Linked DNA regions of Homo sapiens: region 2 is linked to region 1. Evidence: fine-mapped expression QTL. Tissue or cell type: whole blood. Region 1 holds a variant in brackets; the other region holds the start of a gene. All regions are shown on one strand. Distances are between the middles of the regions.

Region 1 (8,000 bases):
TGGCTCTCATCACATGTGTCCGTGGAAGATAAGCAAGTGTGAACTGGCACGTCCTACCTCCTTCCCTACATGGAGGTAACTTTGGACACATGTTCTCCACCTCTCTCCCAGATGGTGAGACCGGAGGAAGACTTGCATTGGGCCTGTTGTTCCTGGGCCAGTGGCCATCAGCCTGTTGCCCAGCCCCTGATGCGCTGAAGCTCGGGCCCTTCCTCGCGCCCTGGTCTCCTGCACTGAGCTGTGGTGAGCACATCCGGGTCCTGCTGGATGCATGCACGAGGTGATTGATCCCCTCAGTTGGGTCGATGATGAGAACCTTATATTGTTCTGAAGAGAGGTGATGACTTAAAAATCATGCTCAATAGGATTACGCTGAGGCCCAGCCTAGGTGAGAATTTTGGAAGAGGATGCTGGGATCCCGAGATCCCTGGCAGGGCCACTATATTTTGGGCTGGAGAACTTGAGGCCCTGAAGGGCATCTCAGGGGGGTCCAACCCTATCTCTGTGCCCCTCCATGAGGCAGCCCAGGCTCCCTGTGTGGGCATGGTGTCCGGGCTCTGGTTCCCTGGGGGTGGGGCATGTTGGTGGCTCCTTCCTGAGCCTGCTTTCTCCCCCATGTCTTTCAGTGAGCTCTTCTGCCCAGGTGAGGCCCATGGCCTTAAGCGGCATAGGTGAGTGTATCCTGTTGGGGTCATGGGCCATGAATGAGGCAGCATGGGGCCATTTATGGTCAGCCTTCGGGCCACTAGGGTTTTCTCAGGGTGCGACCGGGGAGGGAATGTTTCTCCAGTAGGGTCACTTCCTTGGGAATCTGACCCTAGGAGCATGCATTTCGTGAAGCCCTGCAAAGGTGATGGTGGTCCCGGCAGGAAAGGGTTCCTTCAGCCCAACATAGAGCAGCTCCCAGCTGAAACTCAGCGGGCTGGTCAGGCCTCGAGGACTGCCCAGGCCACATGAGGTGGGCAACAGGGGCTCTGGGGCAACCTGGGGGTCACGCTGGAGTTCTCCCTCTCTGGACAGTGGTGGGTGATTGGGCCCACGCAGACAGGCCCCGGAGATTCAGGACTGCACCCCATCCATGGCCCTGAATGGGACCGACCCTGTTGAGTAATGGGCCATCTCAGTGGTACCTCCTTGAGCCTGGTAGGGGGAGGCACTGTTTCAATGCAGTTGAATCAAGGCTGAGCTCTGGCTGGTGCCTGGTGGTGCTGCAGGCAGCCCTGGGGGTTGTGGTCTTTGGGACAAGGGGCCAGCTCACGTCCCTCTGGGGTCTCCCCTTCCTTGAGATTCAGTGGCCGAAAGGATGTCCTCCTGAGGTGGGAAGTCCTGCTGTCGAGGGACCTGTTCTGGGAATTTGCCACACAGGCTGCTTCTGAGCCACGGGGTCACCTCCAGGGTGGTAGGGTCTTGATCCCAAGGAAAGGAGAGGACACCATGTGGTTTCTTATTGACCAAGTGGGACCTGGCTCTGTGTGTGGGAGGTGTAGGGCAAGATGAGGACCCACCAGAGAAAGTACGTGGCCCTGGAGGCCCCCAGGCTTTGATTTCTGGTGTGTGCTTGGAGAGGGCACCAGGGTGGGCACCCACCATGCCCAGGGTAGGCTCTGCAATGGCCAGGTCTGCATTGGCTCCTGGTGTTAGGGCCAGACTCGCTGGTTGGCCATGAGCAGGTTGGTTGCCCTCACCCGTCCCCATAGTCCCAGTGCGGCCCTGGGGTTGTTCGGGGGAGCCGGCCCGAGCAGTGGAGGTGCTGTTGGGGCCTGCAGTAGGGCATCTTGCCCCAGCCCAGTGACCCACCTTCCCTGTCTTTCCAAGGTTTGGTGGCCAGCAGGGCCAATGGTGCCCTGTGTCTGTGATGAGTCAGTGTTCTTCATGGATTCCATCACATGGGTATCCCCTACCCACATTCCCCTCGCTCATATGTGAGGCCCTGGTTGGACACATGTCCTTCTCCTGTCACCACCCCAGATGGTGAGCCTGGAGGAAGACTTGTATTGGGACCCTACAGGCCCCAGGCCAGTGTCTGTCAGCCTGGTGCTCATCCCCCAGTGCGCTGAAGCTCAGACCCTCCCTGGCACCCTGGTCTCCTGCACTGAGCTGTGGTGAGCACATCCAGGTTCTGCTGGATGCATGCATGGGGAGGGCCTTGATTGGGTCAATGATGAGAACCTTATATTGTCCTGAAGAGAGGTGATGACTTAAAAATCATGCTCAATAGGATTACGCTGAGGCCCAGGCTAGGTGAGAATTTTGGAAGGGAGCGCTGGGATGCCAAGATCCCCGGCAGGGCCACTAGCCACTGTATTTTATACTGAAGAACTTGAGGCCCCAAAGGGCATCTCAGGGGTCCTAGCCCTGTCTCTGTGCCCCTCCGTGAGGCAGCCCAGGCTCCCTGTGTTGACTTGGTGTCCAGGCTCTGCTTCCTGGGGATAGGGCATGTTGGCAGCTCCTTCCTGAGCCCACGTTCTCCCCTGTGTCTTCTATTGAGCTCTTCTGCCCAGGTGGGGCCCATGCCCTTAAGCAGTATAGGTGAGTGTATCCTGTTGCGGTCATGGGCCATAAATGAGGCAGTGTGGGGTCATCGAGGGTCAGCCTTCAGGCCACTAGCGTTTTCTCCAGGTGCCCCCGGGGAGGGAACATTGCTCCAGTAGGGTCACTTCCTTGGGAATCTGACCCTAGGAGCACGCATTTCCTGAAGCCCTGCAAAGGTGATGGTGGTCCAGGCAGGAAAGCGTTCCTTCAGCCCAACATACAGCAGCTCCCAGCTGAAATTTGGTGGGCTCGTCAGGCCTTGAGGACTGCCCAGGCTTCATGATGGGGGACACAGAAGCTCTGGGGCTCCCTGGGGCTCACACTGGAGTTCTCCCTCCCTGAAGAGTGGTGGGTGATTGGGCCCACAGTCAGGTGGCGGAGATTCAAGGAATGCCCCCACCCCTGGCCCTGAATGGGACCAACTCTGTTGAGTAATGGGCCATCTTAATGGCGCCTCCTTGAGCCTGTTGGGGGTGGGTTGCTGTTTCAATAAGGTTGAGTCAAAGCTGAGCTCTGACTGGGCGCCTGGTGGTACTGCAGGCCGGCCCTTCCTTGGGCCAAGGGGGCAGCTTGTGTCCCGCTGGTGTCATCCCTTCCTTGAGGTCCAGTGGTGGAAAGGGTAGCCTCCTATGGTGGGAAGGCCTGCTGCTCAGGGACCTGTCCTGGAAATTTGCCATCCAGGCTGCTTCTGAGCCATGGGGTCACCTCCAGGGTAGTGGGGTCTTGAGTCCAAGAAAAGGAGAGGACACCATGTGGTTCCTGATTGGCCAAGGCTCCTTGGTTGGCCAGGAGCAGGTTGGTTGCCCTGGCCCATGCCCCATGGTCCTGGTGTGGCCCTGGGGTTGTTCAGGGGAGCTGGCCCAGGCCGTGAAGGTGCTCTCAGGGCCTGCAGTAGAGTGCAGCCCAGGCATCTTGCCCCAGCCCAGTGACCCACTTACCCTGTCTTTCTAAGGTTTGGTGGCCAGGAGGGCCAATGGTGCCTTGTGCCCATGTTGGGTCAGTGTTCTGCATGGATCCCCATCATATGGGTATTCCCTACCCACCCTCCCTGCACTGATATGTGAGGCCCTGGTTGGACACATGTCCTCCTCCTGTCCCTTCAGATGGTGAGTCTGGAGGAAGACTTGTGTTGGACCCCCACAGGCCCCAGGCCAGTGTCCATCAGCCTGGTGCTAATCCCCCAGTGCTCTGGAGTTTGGACCCTCCCTGGCACCCTGGTCTCCTGCACTGAGCTGTGGTGAGCACATGGATGCATGCTTGGGGTGGGGGTTGCCCTTGGTTGGGTCAATGATGAGAACCTTATATTGTCCTGAAGAGCGGTGATGACTTAAAAATCATGCTCAATAGGATTACGCTGAGGCCCAGCCTAGGTGAGAATTTTGGAAGAGGACACTGGGCTCCCCGGAATGGCCACTGTATTTTGCGCTGGACACCTGCAGGCCCTGAGGGCCATCTGGAAGGTCCAACCCTGTCTCTCTGCTCCTCCAGGAGGCAGCCCAGGCTCCCTGAGGGGGCTTGGTGTCGGGCTCCTGTTCCCCGGGGTTGGGGCCGGTTGGTGGCTCCTTCCTGAGCCCCCATTCTCCCCTTGTGTCTTTCAGTGAGCTCTTCCACC[C/T]GGGCGGGCCCCCGGCATTGACTGGCATAGGTGAGTGGATCCTGCTTGTGTCATGGGCCATGAACCGGTCCATGTGGGGTCACCAAGGGTCAGCCTTTGGGATAAGAGGGTTTCCTCAGGGAACCAACCTGAATTCCCATCAGAGAGGTATGGGTTCTCCAGGAGGGCCGCTTTTTTGGGAATTGGACCCAAGGAGGATAACTTCCCTGATCTCTGCAGGAGTGACGGTGGTCCAGGCAGGAAAGAGTTCCTTCAGCCCCACCCAGCGCAGCGTTCTGTTGAGACTCAGTGCTCAGGTCAGGCCTGGAGGATTTCTCAGGCCATCTGAGGGGGTTAGAGGGGAGCTCTTTGTCCATGGAGTGTGGTGCTTGAATCTGCCCTTGGGGTTGGGTCATGGAGATTCAAGGATGGTGCCTCACCCATGGCCCTGATTGGAATTGTCCATTGAGAAATACGCCATTCCAGTGGGCCTCCTGGAGCCTGATGGGGGGTGGTGTTTTTTTCCCTGGGGTTGAGTCGTTGATGGGGACTCACCATAGAAAGCATGTGGCTCTGGAGGCCCCCAGGCTTTGATTTCCAGTGCCTGCTTGGAGTGGGCACCAGGGCCGGCACCCACCATGCCCAAGGGCAGGCTCTGCGACTGCCAGGTCTGCATTGGCTCCTGGCATCAGGACCAGCCTCCTTGGTTGGCCATCAGCTGCTTGGTTGCCCTGGCCCATGCCCCGTGGTCCTGGTGTGGCCCTGGGGTGGTTGAGTGGAGCTGGCCCAGGCAGTGGAGGTGCTCTTGGGGCCTGCAGTAGGGTGCAGCCCAGGCATCTTGCCTGATCCCAGTGACCTGCTTGCCCTGTCTTTCCAGGATTTTGTGGCAGGGAGGGCCAAGGGTGCCCTGCATCCGTGATGGGTCAGTGTTCCACGTGGATCCCATTACGTGGGTCCATAGAGGATGAGCATGCGTGAGCCAGCGCCCCCTTCCCACTTCTTCTCATGGAGCTGTGAGGCCCTGTGTGGACAGCTGTCTTCCTCTTGTCCCACCAGGTGGTGAGCCCGGAGGAGGACTTGCGTTCGGCCCGCTGGTCCCAGTGTGTCCGGAATTGGTGGGTTCTTGGTCTCACTGACTTCAAGAATGAAGCTGCGGACCCTCGCTGTGAGTGTTACAGCTCTTAAGGTGGCATGTCTGGAGTTTGTTCCTTCTGATGTTCGGATGTGTTCGGAGTTTCTTCCTTCTGGTGGGTTTGTGGTCTCGCTGGCTTCAGGAGTGAAGCTGCAGACCTTCGCGGTGAGTGTTACAGCTCATAAAAGCAGTGTGGACCCAAAGAGTGAGCAGTAGCAAGATTTATTGCAAAGAGTGAAAGAACAAAGCTTCCACAGTTTGGAAGGGGACCCAAGTGGGTTGCCACTGCTGGCTGGGGCAGCCTGCTTTTATTCTCTTATCTGGCCCCACACACATCCTGCTGATTGGTAGAGCTGAGTGATCTGTTTTGACAGGGCGCTGATTGGTGCGTTTACAATCCCTGAGCTAGACACAAAGGTTCTCCATGTCCCCACTAGATTAGCTAGATACAGAGTGTTGACACAAAGGTTCTCCAAGTCCCCACCGGAGTAGCTAGATACAGAGTGTCTATTGGTGCATTCACAAACCCTGAGCTTGACACAGAGTGCTGATTGGTGTGTTTGCAAACCTTGAGCCAGATACAGAGCGCGGATTGGTGTATTTACAGTCCCTGAGCTAGACATAAAGGTTCTCCAAGGCCCCACCAGAGAAGCTAGATACAGAGTGTCGATTGGTGCATTCACAAACCCTGAGCTAGACACAGGGTGCTGATTGGTGTGTTTACAAACCTTGAGCTAGATACAGAGTGCCGATTGGTGTATTTACAATCCCTGAGCTAGACATAAAGGTTCTCCAAGGCCCCACCAGACTCAGGAGCCCAGCTGTCTTCACCCAGTGGATCCCGCACTGGGGCTGCAGGTGGAGCTGCCTGCCAGTCCTGCGCCATGCGCCCGCACTCCTCAGCCCTTGTGTGGTTGATGGGACTGGGCACCGTGGAGCAGGGGGCGGCACTCGTCGGGGAGGCTCTGGCTGCACAGGAGCCCATGGAGGGGGTGGGAGGCTCAGGCATGGCAGGCTGCAGGTCCCGAGCCCTGCCCCGAGGGAAGGCAGCTAAGGCCCGGTGAGAAATCAAGTGCAGCGCCGGTGGGCTGGCACTGCTGGGGGACCCAGTATACCCTCTGCAGCTGCTGGCCCGGGTGCTAAGCCCCTCATTGCCTGGGGCCGGCAGGGCCGGCCCGCTGCTCCGAGTGTGGGGCCCGCCAAGCCCACACCCACCCGGAACTCCAGCTGGCCCACAAGCGCCCCGCGCAGCCCCGGTTCCCACTTGCGCCTCTCCCTCCACACCTCCCTGCAAGCTGAGGGAGCAGGCTCCGGCCTTGGCCAGCCCAGAAAGGGGCTCCCACAGTGCAGCAGTGGGCTGAAGGGCTCCTCAAGTGCCACCAAAGTGGGAGCCCAGGCAGAGGAGGCGCCAAGAGCAAGTGAGGGCTGTGAGGACTGCCAGCACGCTGTCACCTTTCATCAGGACAGTGTCTGTCAGCCAGGTGCACAGCCCTTGGTGTGCTGGAGCTTGGGCTTTTCTTGGCAGCCTGGTGTCCTGCATTGAGCGGTGGTGAGCTTGTCCAGGTCCCGCTGGTTACCTGCACGGTGACGGGGGTGCCCTCGGTTAGGTTGATGATGAGAACCTTATTTTGTCTCGAGGAGAGGTTATGTGATGGGTGTTGTGGCAGCTCTTTGTATTTCATTTTCTTCAGTGCTTTTTGTGTGTTCTCTTTGTATTTTTTACCGCTTTGTGTATTTTACTTTCACAAAGGCAGCAGCAAATGTTTTATTGGTGGTGGTATTTTTCATTTTTATTTACTTCCTAATTTGATAGTGTTTTAGTTGGAATACACAGTCTCATTGTAGTTGTTCAGAAATATGCTTTTTTTCTGTACATTATATGATTGTGCATAATTTTTGCCAGTTTTTTTTTTAATTGGGGACTACAGTTGAATGCACTGCCTATCTCCTACTTTACTGAAACAGATTGTATGGAAATCTAAAGACGAGAAAGTAGACAAGCACAGCAGAGGACATTTATTTTGATATAACCACAGAAATTCATTGATATGACCTTATCATATTGATGGTTTTTCAAAGAAATATAAAATCTTTCGATAATGGATTGTCTCAGTTGCGTTTCTCCTTATATCATGTTTTGCCTTCAATACAAATTGCAATGCTTAGAAATTTAAAGAACACCTTCTGAAGTGGAAGATCTAGCTAAAGAATTAGATTGGTATTGGCTGAAATGTTGCAGTAATCACATGATAGGGTTAATACAACATGAGTTACATGCTGAGTGCTCTAAGGTAGAAAGTAGGTAACAAGGAATAACAGGTAGGTAATGTAAGTCGGGAGAAGGAAACTCTAGGACAGAATCATTAGAAAAGGCTTGACGTCAACAGCAGTGTATAGAATTTACAGTGTATAGAATTTACAGTGCATAGAATTTACAATAAGTGCCTTTTTTTGTGCTCATCAATGCTCTTGCTTATATTGTAGGAGGAGTTAGTTCCCTTGAAGAAATATCAATACAAATTTCCAAATTGCAATGCAGAGGGAAAAAAGAATGAGAAAGTAAAAAATATCCAAGAACTCTGGAAGCATTTCAAAAAGTGTAAAAATGCATAGTGACAATGTCAGGAGAATAAGGAGATAAAGGAAAAGAAATATTTGACACAACAATGACTTGAGCACTTTCTAAAATTAATGATGGACAGAAACCCACATGTTCAGGAAGCTCAGAGAGCACTCTGCAGAATA
Region 2 (8,000 bases), 190 kb after region 1:
ATTTCTAAGGTAATACTTATTGAGTGCCTACGTGTTAGGCGTTTTACATACTTTAAGCCTCACAACTCTGGGGAAGTTTCACCAACCCATTTTACAGATGACAAAACTGTGGCTTACCAAGATTAATAAGGCCAGAATTAAAATTAGGGTCTAATTCCAAAGATATTACCACTATACATACCAAGATGTCTTGTTACTACATTTTATCCTTACATTTGGCAGTGAGGGGAAAACTCAAAAAGCAGTCAAAAAACTTTTGTCCTGAACCAACATAAAAAGAGCACCTAAGACTTCATCCAGTATTTTACCGAAAGATCACTTCTAAAAGTTTGTCTTCACCCCGATCTAAAAATTAGAAAACTAATTTTCTTTCAGCAGCTGCATATGTACATAATGTAATGTTTCTACATTTAGACCTACACAATTATAAGTCTAAACAAAATATGTGTAACATGATTGGAGAACATAACTAGCAGTCATTTAAGAAAATGGACATTTGGAAACATCATTTCAAGAGCTTGGGATGAAAAATTTTGCTATGACCTATAAATCTGGATCATTCCACTGACTGACACTGAGAGAAACAGTGTATTATCACAGTTTACACAGTAAATTTTTTTGGAGGGGAGAGGGAGGAGATTGAAATAGAAATGATCGAAATAGAAATTATCTAAAGTTTAAGAAATACAACTGATTAAATGTTACATGTCAAAGACACTGTAGGTACCCAATAAATCCTGTTAAATGGACTGCACAAGTGGGATGAGAACACGTTTTCCCCACACCTCTGACTAGTATGTACCTTTCTTAGGAAGTTATTTTTTCAGCCATGGGAAAAAAAAGGGCAGAATTTAGGACAGATAAAACATAAGTAGCTTATAAATCCTCTGAAAGGAAATCAAAACACAGTATTTTGTATCTCTGTATAAAGTTAAGCTCCTCAGGGACAGGGGCAATGTCCAGAGGATAGTGAGCATACTACTTAGCAAACTAATGCAGGTTAATAAATATTGACACAGTAAGACTAGCATAGTTTACATTCTAATTTTGTAAAGATTATAAGTTACCTCTTCATATTCTGTTCTTTTATTTCTCCTGTGTATATTATAAATACACAAAGATTGAAAATTATTTCTTGAAGCTATTTCCTTTTTTATTTTTTGGTCAACTGTATTAGTGTTTCTTAAAAGGGCTTCTGGTCATCCTTAGGGCTTATCAGTAGCATCATTAATAATGTATTCATTTCACTAAAAATGTGGTAAGTAGCTTGGATTTAAAAACAGGATCTAATTTCAAAGCTATTTCCACTATACACACCAAGTTACAACTTTCTTATCTCTCCTAAATTCTAAATTTTACATGATTTACCAAATCACTTCTTAAGTAAGAGTACTTATTGATCAGAAGTGTGAGACAAACACCTTATCCCACTTGTCCAATTTATTCAACAAGATTGATTGGGTACCTTTGTGTCTCTGACAGGTAACTTTCAACAGTTGTATTTCTTAAACTTTAGGTCGTCTCCCAAAAAAAACTGTAATAATTTGCTGCTTCTCTCAATATTGCAGGCAGTAAAATGATCCAAAATTACGGGTCATATCCACATTTCTTCATGATTGAGGTTAACTGTGCACTGTAAACCCCATATGCTATTAGTTTACATTTTCAACAGCACCCTCGCCACTTAATAATCTCAAACAGATTTTGGACTGTTACTAATTTAGCATATCCATAAAAAGTCATTTAAAAAATGTAGACGCTAAATTCTCTTTCAAGGTTGCCAAGCTTCACCAGTGTCTGTATTAAAATTATTTCTAAAATTTTACGGACTAAGGCATTTGGTACATTCAATTCTACCTTTACCAACAAAAGCCTTTACCACCAAGATGAGGAAAGCATCCTTTTCATTTTCTACACTGAAAAGGGGGGGGAAAAAAGGCCAACTGCTTGCATACAGGTCTGCATATAACACAGCAGTCTCTGGCAAAGCCAATAACTCACGTTCAACTTCAGAAATCCTGGTGGCCGGTAACACAGAGTAACCTGTGCGCACAACCCTTGGGCTTGACATACCACTTCATCCGCCCTCCCTTCCCATCAATCCACCCCCAAAACCCCAACCCACCAAGCACACGGCTAAATATGTCTTCCCCAAGAGAGCCAAAAACCTTGAAAACGCCGAGAAAGGGCTCCCCTTTGAAGGAAAGGGCCTGCCCTTCCCTGTCTGGGGCCCCGGCTGGCTCGAAGAGCCTGGCTCCTAGGAGGCCCAAATCTCGACGCCTCGCACGTCCCGCCCCGCCCCGGGCCCGCTCGCGTCCCCTCGGGCGACAAAACCCTCCCGCCGTCGCTCAGCCAGGACTGACAGTTACGGCTGCAGCAGCCGCGGCCACCAGGGGCCTACTTCTGGCACCAGCCCCTTCGGACCACGCGCCCCCAAACACTCGCCTCGGCGGCGGGGGGCGGGGAAGGGGGGTGTCGACCTCGCCACAGCGGGCCCCGAAGGCCGGCCGAGTGACGGAGGGGAGCCAGCGCCGCCTGGCGCAGGCCGCGGCAACACTGACCTGTCGTCGCCCCCGCGCCTGGGCTGCGGCGGCCGCCTCACTGGTCGTAGTCGCCCTCGCCCGCCGCCTCCGCCCGCCACCGCCTCGTTCTCTTTCGCTGCCGCCACCGCCGGGGCTCATGCGGGACCCGCGCTTCCTTATCCGGAAAACGAGGCCGGGAAAGGGAGCGCCGGGGCCGCCGAAATCCCGGCGTTCGTCGCCAGCCGCCGCTGCCTGTCCACACCGGGGGGCTGAGGGGCCCTCCTGCCAGGGGCTACAGGCCGCGAGCTATTCCGAGGAGGAGCCGAAGGAGGCGCCGCCGCCCGCAGCCGAGCGCGCCGGGTCGGCAGAGGTGAAGCGTAAGTAGGCGGCGGATGGCGGGCGCCCGCGCTGGCGGATGGCTACGCGGCGGAGGGGTGCGCGAGCGAGCGAAGCCTGGTGTGTCGGGTCCTGGCGAAGGGAAAAGGCCCCGTCGTCTCCTGTAGTCACCCCGAGCCCAGCGCCACCATCTTGGGAGACACACGGATCTCGCGGCCGCGGCGCAAGACGGGAGGACTGGCTGGGCGGGCCGAGTATCCCGGCAGGCAGCGCGCGCCGCCCGGCCGGGCGAGGGCTCCAGGCCGGGACGCGGGGACGTGGGGCGGGGCCAAGACGCGCGGGAGGGCGCCGCGCTCCGCCCCTCCTTCCTTCGCCGGCCCCGCCTCCCTCCCGCTTGCCGTCGCCGCCGGCGCACGGGCCATTGGGAAGAGGAGGTGGCCTGCGGCCCCTCGGAGTCCCACCAGGCTCGGTCGCCATCTTGCGACTGGACAGAAAGGGTAATCCCTCTTTTTAGTTTCTGCTGTCTGTGACCCGAAAGAATAAACCTGGGACTTCCGGAAGCCCTCTGGGCACCCCCCCCCCCAGGAGGGTTGCAGAGCCCCTTGGTGTACCCAGCAGAGGAACGCCTCAGACTTTGTTGGGAAACGAATGGCTCTGAAAGTTAGCTGAAGCCGCTGGAATAGCCCCCCAGCCCCGAGGCGGGGCAGGTGCCTGCCGTTATTGGCTTTTCGACCCCAACCCTTTTCTATCTGGAGCTGCCTTTGTAGATGTTGCAGGGGTGCCCCGAGAGTGCAGGCCAGATTTTAGAGGACCAAGGTCATCTACTTAGGCCTCTTGCCAACACAGGATGTGTCAACTAGTTTACCAGAGACGAAGGTAAAGTCCCGTCTCCTGCAGTTGTTGACGTTCAGTAGGTCGTCGGTTAAGAAAAGTGGCTCCCTGGTTGACCCCAGCTGGATAGAGGCTAATTTTGATCCATATGACAGCTGAACGTAGTTAAAGCCATTAAAATTAAATCCATTTAAAGTCATATTTGGTACCAGGGTCACCATTTTAAAAGGTGTGTGTGTGTATGTGTGTGTGTGTGTGTGTGTGTGTGTATAGCTTTACAACACTTGCTAGCAAAGCCAAAAGAGTATCACTAACAATTCATAGTGTTACAACTTGCAACTTTGTTGATAAGCCCTTGAAGTACTAGATGAGTACCCATGTCTAGTATTCAGATTTTTTATATCAACAGTCGTACATAGCAGTGTATCTTTTTTAAATTTATTTTTATTTTTAAACTTAGAAATGGTGTCTTGCTATGTTAGGCCCAGGCTGGTCTCGAGCTCCTGGCCTCAAGTGATCCTCCCACCTCGGCCTCCCAAAGTTTTGGGACTACAGGCATGAGCCACAGTGCTCGGCCAGCAGTGTAATTTTTAACTGTCAGTCTCGGAACATCTTTTTTGTATAGCCAAGTGTGTGGGTGTGTGTGTGTATCCGCCTCACAACTATAACCAACCATTGAAAAACCAACAATAAGCTAGAAGAATTTAAGTTATTCCAGGACAACTGATGATAATGATAGTATTAAGCCATATTCGATTTTAAGATGTTTTAACTCAGCTCTTTACTCACTTTTCATTTCCTCTCATTACACATCCACATTTGGAAACTATTTGCTGTTATATTTCATGGAAAGGACTAGTAAGAATTATAATCTTTAAAAAAATTTATCTTCGCAAGTTTTCAAAATAGGCAACAAAGAATGTAAATCTTTAAGGACTTTATTGTTGGACTAATTAAAGCATACCATTTCTACTATATCTAGCATATGGAGATACTTATAGGTATTCTTCCTTTTAAGTAGAAATTGACAATAAATTAAGTGTAATTTTATAATGGCCTGGTGTATCAAAGTGTGGCGGAAATCCCTGAGTTCCAAAAAGATTAAAGACCGAAGGGAAATAAGTCTGCTTTTAGCTAGATGTCAGAATGACTATTCATTGCTTTACTGAGATCAAGGAGGATCTTAATTCCTCCTGGAGAAATTACGTATATCCGTTTTAGTTCATTAATTTTAAATCTGTATTCTTATGTGTGACATTAGTATTAGAATTCTTTCAAGATTTCACTGTGCTTTTTGTTTTATCCATTTTCAAATTTAGAAATGTTTGCTCATCAAACTTACCAACATAAATACTTTCAGGAATCCTTAAGATACTAGCAGTGTTCCACTTCCCTATACACCTGTTTATATGAAAAATAAAAAAATTCTCCCATATCAGACCCATGTGTTTTTTTTTTTTTAGGTGTGTTTTTCCCAGAAAAACAACTTTGTATCTACTAAGTGAACAGTGATTTCTTCAGACTTTTCTAGTCCAAATGAGACCCAGTAGTTTCTAATAATTTTCTCATTTCAGGTATACAGTAAAAAGAGCAATTTAATTTTATAAGCATCTGCATCAATGCCTTGAGCAAACTTTGAGCTAATGTTTACCCAGAACTATTTATGTGTCATATGTTGGACTACTTGAACTACTATTTATGTGCCAGACCTTGGGAAACAATAAAAGATGAACAATCTCTATCCCTGCCCTCAAGAACTTGCAGTTCCAGAGGAAGTCACACCTGTAAGATTGGACACTTTTTCAGAGTAACCCAACACTTCATTGAGCATGGGGGGTACCTAGTAATATGTATCTGCTAATACTAACAAACTTTTTATTTTATTATTATTATTATTTTTTTGAGACAGAGTCTTGCTCCGTCGCCCATGCTGGAGTGCAGTGGCGCAATCTTGGCTCATTGCAAGCTCCACCTCCCAGGTTCATGCCATTCTCCTGCCTCAGCCTCCCAAGTAGCTGGGACTACAGGCACCCGCCACCACGCCTGGCTAATTTTTTGTATTTTTAGTAGAGACGGGGTTTCACCGTGTTAGCCAGGATGGGCTCGATCTCCTGACCTCGTGATCCGCCCGCCTCGGCCTCCCAAAGTGCTGGGATTACAGGCATGATCCACCATGCCCAGCCAACAAACTTTTTTTTAAAGGAAACATTTTGCCCTAAATTGCTGGTGAAGTTGTTTTTTGACAGAGCTGTTTTATTGCTGAAGATTTCTTATTGATGCCAGTCATAACAGATGAATCAAAATGCAAGAACAACTTTTTTTACTACTCAGCATGCCCCAGGATCAGAAATAAGTCGAGCATGGAAGAGACAAAATTCAGATATGGTGGGATAGAAGTCACGGTTGCTATTTTTAGGCCACATCCAAATGTTACACACTCAACTTCTGAAAAACACTAAGCTTTCAATATATGAATAGCTCCCATTATTTAAGAAATACTGTTAAGCAAACTTAGCTCCATGAAGAACACTGGCATATGATAAGTGCTCAGTAAATGTTAGTGCTTAGTAGTGGTAGTAGTAGTAGTATATGTATCATTGTTTAGTACTGCACACATCAGGCATGAACTCCTACATACCCCCACCCTTATGCCTGCAGACCTGTCTAAATTTGCATTCTTTCTGACCTCGAGTCTTAAGGTAGAAGCCATCCTTCTGTCCTTTCTACAGGTAATTTTTATTTCTTGAGGGAAGAGAGATTGACTCAAGACTCTTACTCCCTTAAATATTCCCACTCCTGTTCATAAATTCTCCCTCTACTTTGTCCCTTCTATTTAGAAAAGCTGTCTATACTTAGATTGCTATTACCTTCCAAATTCCTCTTCAACTACAGAAATTTAGCAGCTCCCTCCATTTTACTGTATACATTGCTTGTATCAATTTCACTGTGGCATAATGGCCAAATTGAAAGGTTGCTTCTCAGTTTTCATAACATCTGATCTCTCTGCAGCCTTCCACACTGCTGACCACTGCCTCCTGGAAACTGCTCCCTTGGTTCTGTCACCTTACATTCTCTGCTCTTCTGCCTTGTCTTAGGCCACTCTTTCTCAGGTCTCCTGTGCAGAATCCTCCCTCCCCATTCTTGGTTCTCTGCCTACCATGTTATAATCTTTGACAGTACCATTTACGTATACTCTTCTATCACTTATTTCAGTCAGGAATCAAGTCTGAATCTTGAACACAGATCTCAGTCAGAAGCATCAGACACAGTATCTTCAACCCCTTATTGGAAACCTGTACTGGGTGTTCTACAGGCACCTCAAGCTCAACATGATTAACATCAAACCCCTGAGTTTGTTCTGTCTTCCACCATGGACTGAGATGTGATAACAGTGCAAAGGAGCAGGTTTTGGGAGAACAAGCAGGAATTTAGTTTTGGTAATGTTAAATTTGAGATACCTGTTGGATATCTGTTGTACAAACTGCTTCCTAGCTGACTCTTATGCATTCTGCTCTTTATCCATGATAATAGAACATCTAGCCAGACACATGGTTGCCTATAATACACCCTTAAGTGTGGCCATATCTCTTAAGTTCTGGCCAGTAGGATGTGAGCAGAAATTATGTATGCAACTTCCAGATCATTTTCTAAAAGAAATTGGGTGTCACTTGCCCTTTCTTTTGTCCTTTTCTGATGAATGTATGTATTAAATAGTTGGGGTAGTAAACCATGTTGAAAGATGCTGTGGTTTCAATGATGGTGTCCCCTTCAAAATTCATGTTGAAACTTAATCCCCATTGTGATGATACTAACAGCTGATGAAATCATGAGGGCCCTGCCTCATGGATGGATTAATACCTTGTAAAAGGACTGGAGGGAACTAGCTTAGGCCTTCTTTTGCCCTTCCATCCCTTTAGCCACACGAGGACACAGCATTCACCCCCTCCAGAGGATATAGCAGTAAGGTCCCACCTTGGAAACTGCAGCCCTCACCAGACACTAAACCTGCTGGGGGTCTTGAGCTTGTACTTCCCAGCCTTTAGAACTGTGAAAAAGTATATTTCTGTTCTTCACAAATTTCCCAGTTTCAGGTATTTTGTTACAGCAGCATAAACAAGACTAAGACACTGGGAAACATTCTAGGGATTGCAGAGCAACAAGTTGGGGCCCTGAGGACTTCATTGGGCAGGTCCTGTGTACCAGGTCAACTCTGATGTAAGACAGCTACTAACTTCTATGATCTGCCATGGTTATTCTAAATCCCTTTAACTGCAGCTGACCTTGTGTCTTAATATCCAAGCAAAGATATCA

The links. PIP is the estimated chance that this variant, and not a neighbour inherited with it, causes the effect.
Region 2: UBE3A starts here. The variant in region 1 is fine-mapped to the expression of UBE3A in whole blood (INTERVAL, PIP above 0.99).

Annotation. Positions count from the first base shown.
Region 1 is chr15:25,247,046-25,255,045 of GRCh38, forward strand. It overlaps SNHG14 (small nucleolar RNA host gene 14), which reads left to right. Exons shown (of 148, transcript NR_146177.1): 134 at 112-243; 135 at 627-671; 136 at 1,969-2,102; 137 at 3,636-3,766; 138 at 4,131-4,174; 139 at 5,180-5,288. It overlaps SNORD115-42 (small nucleolar RNA, C/D box 115-42), which reads left to right and starts at 300; the gene lies at 300-381. It overlaps SNORD115-43 (small nucleolar RNA, C/D box 115-43), which reads left to right and starts at 2,153; the gene lies at 2,153-2,234. SNORD115-44 (small nucleolar RNA, C/D box 115-44) reads left to right here and starts at 3,814; the gene lies at 3,814-3,895. The variant C/T (reference allele first, on the strand shown) is at 4,145.
Region 2 is chr15:25,435,928-25,443,927 of GRCh38, forward strand. It overlaps UBE3A (ubiquitin protein ligase E3A), which reads right to left and starts at 3,097. Exons shown (of 13, transcript NM_130839.5): 1 at 2,562-3,097. RefSeq lists enhancers at 2,213-3,158, 3,159-4,104 and silencers at 2,242-2,661, 3,022-3,361.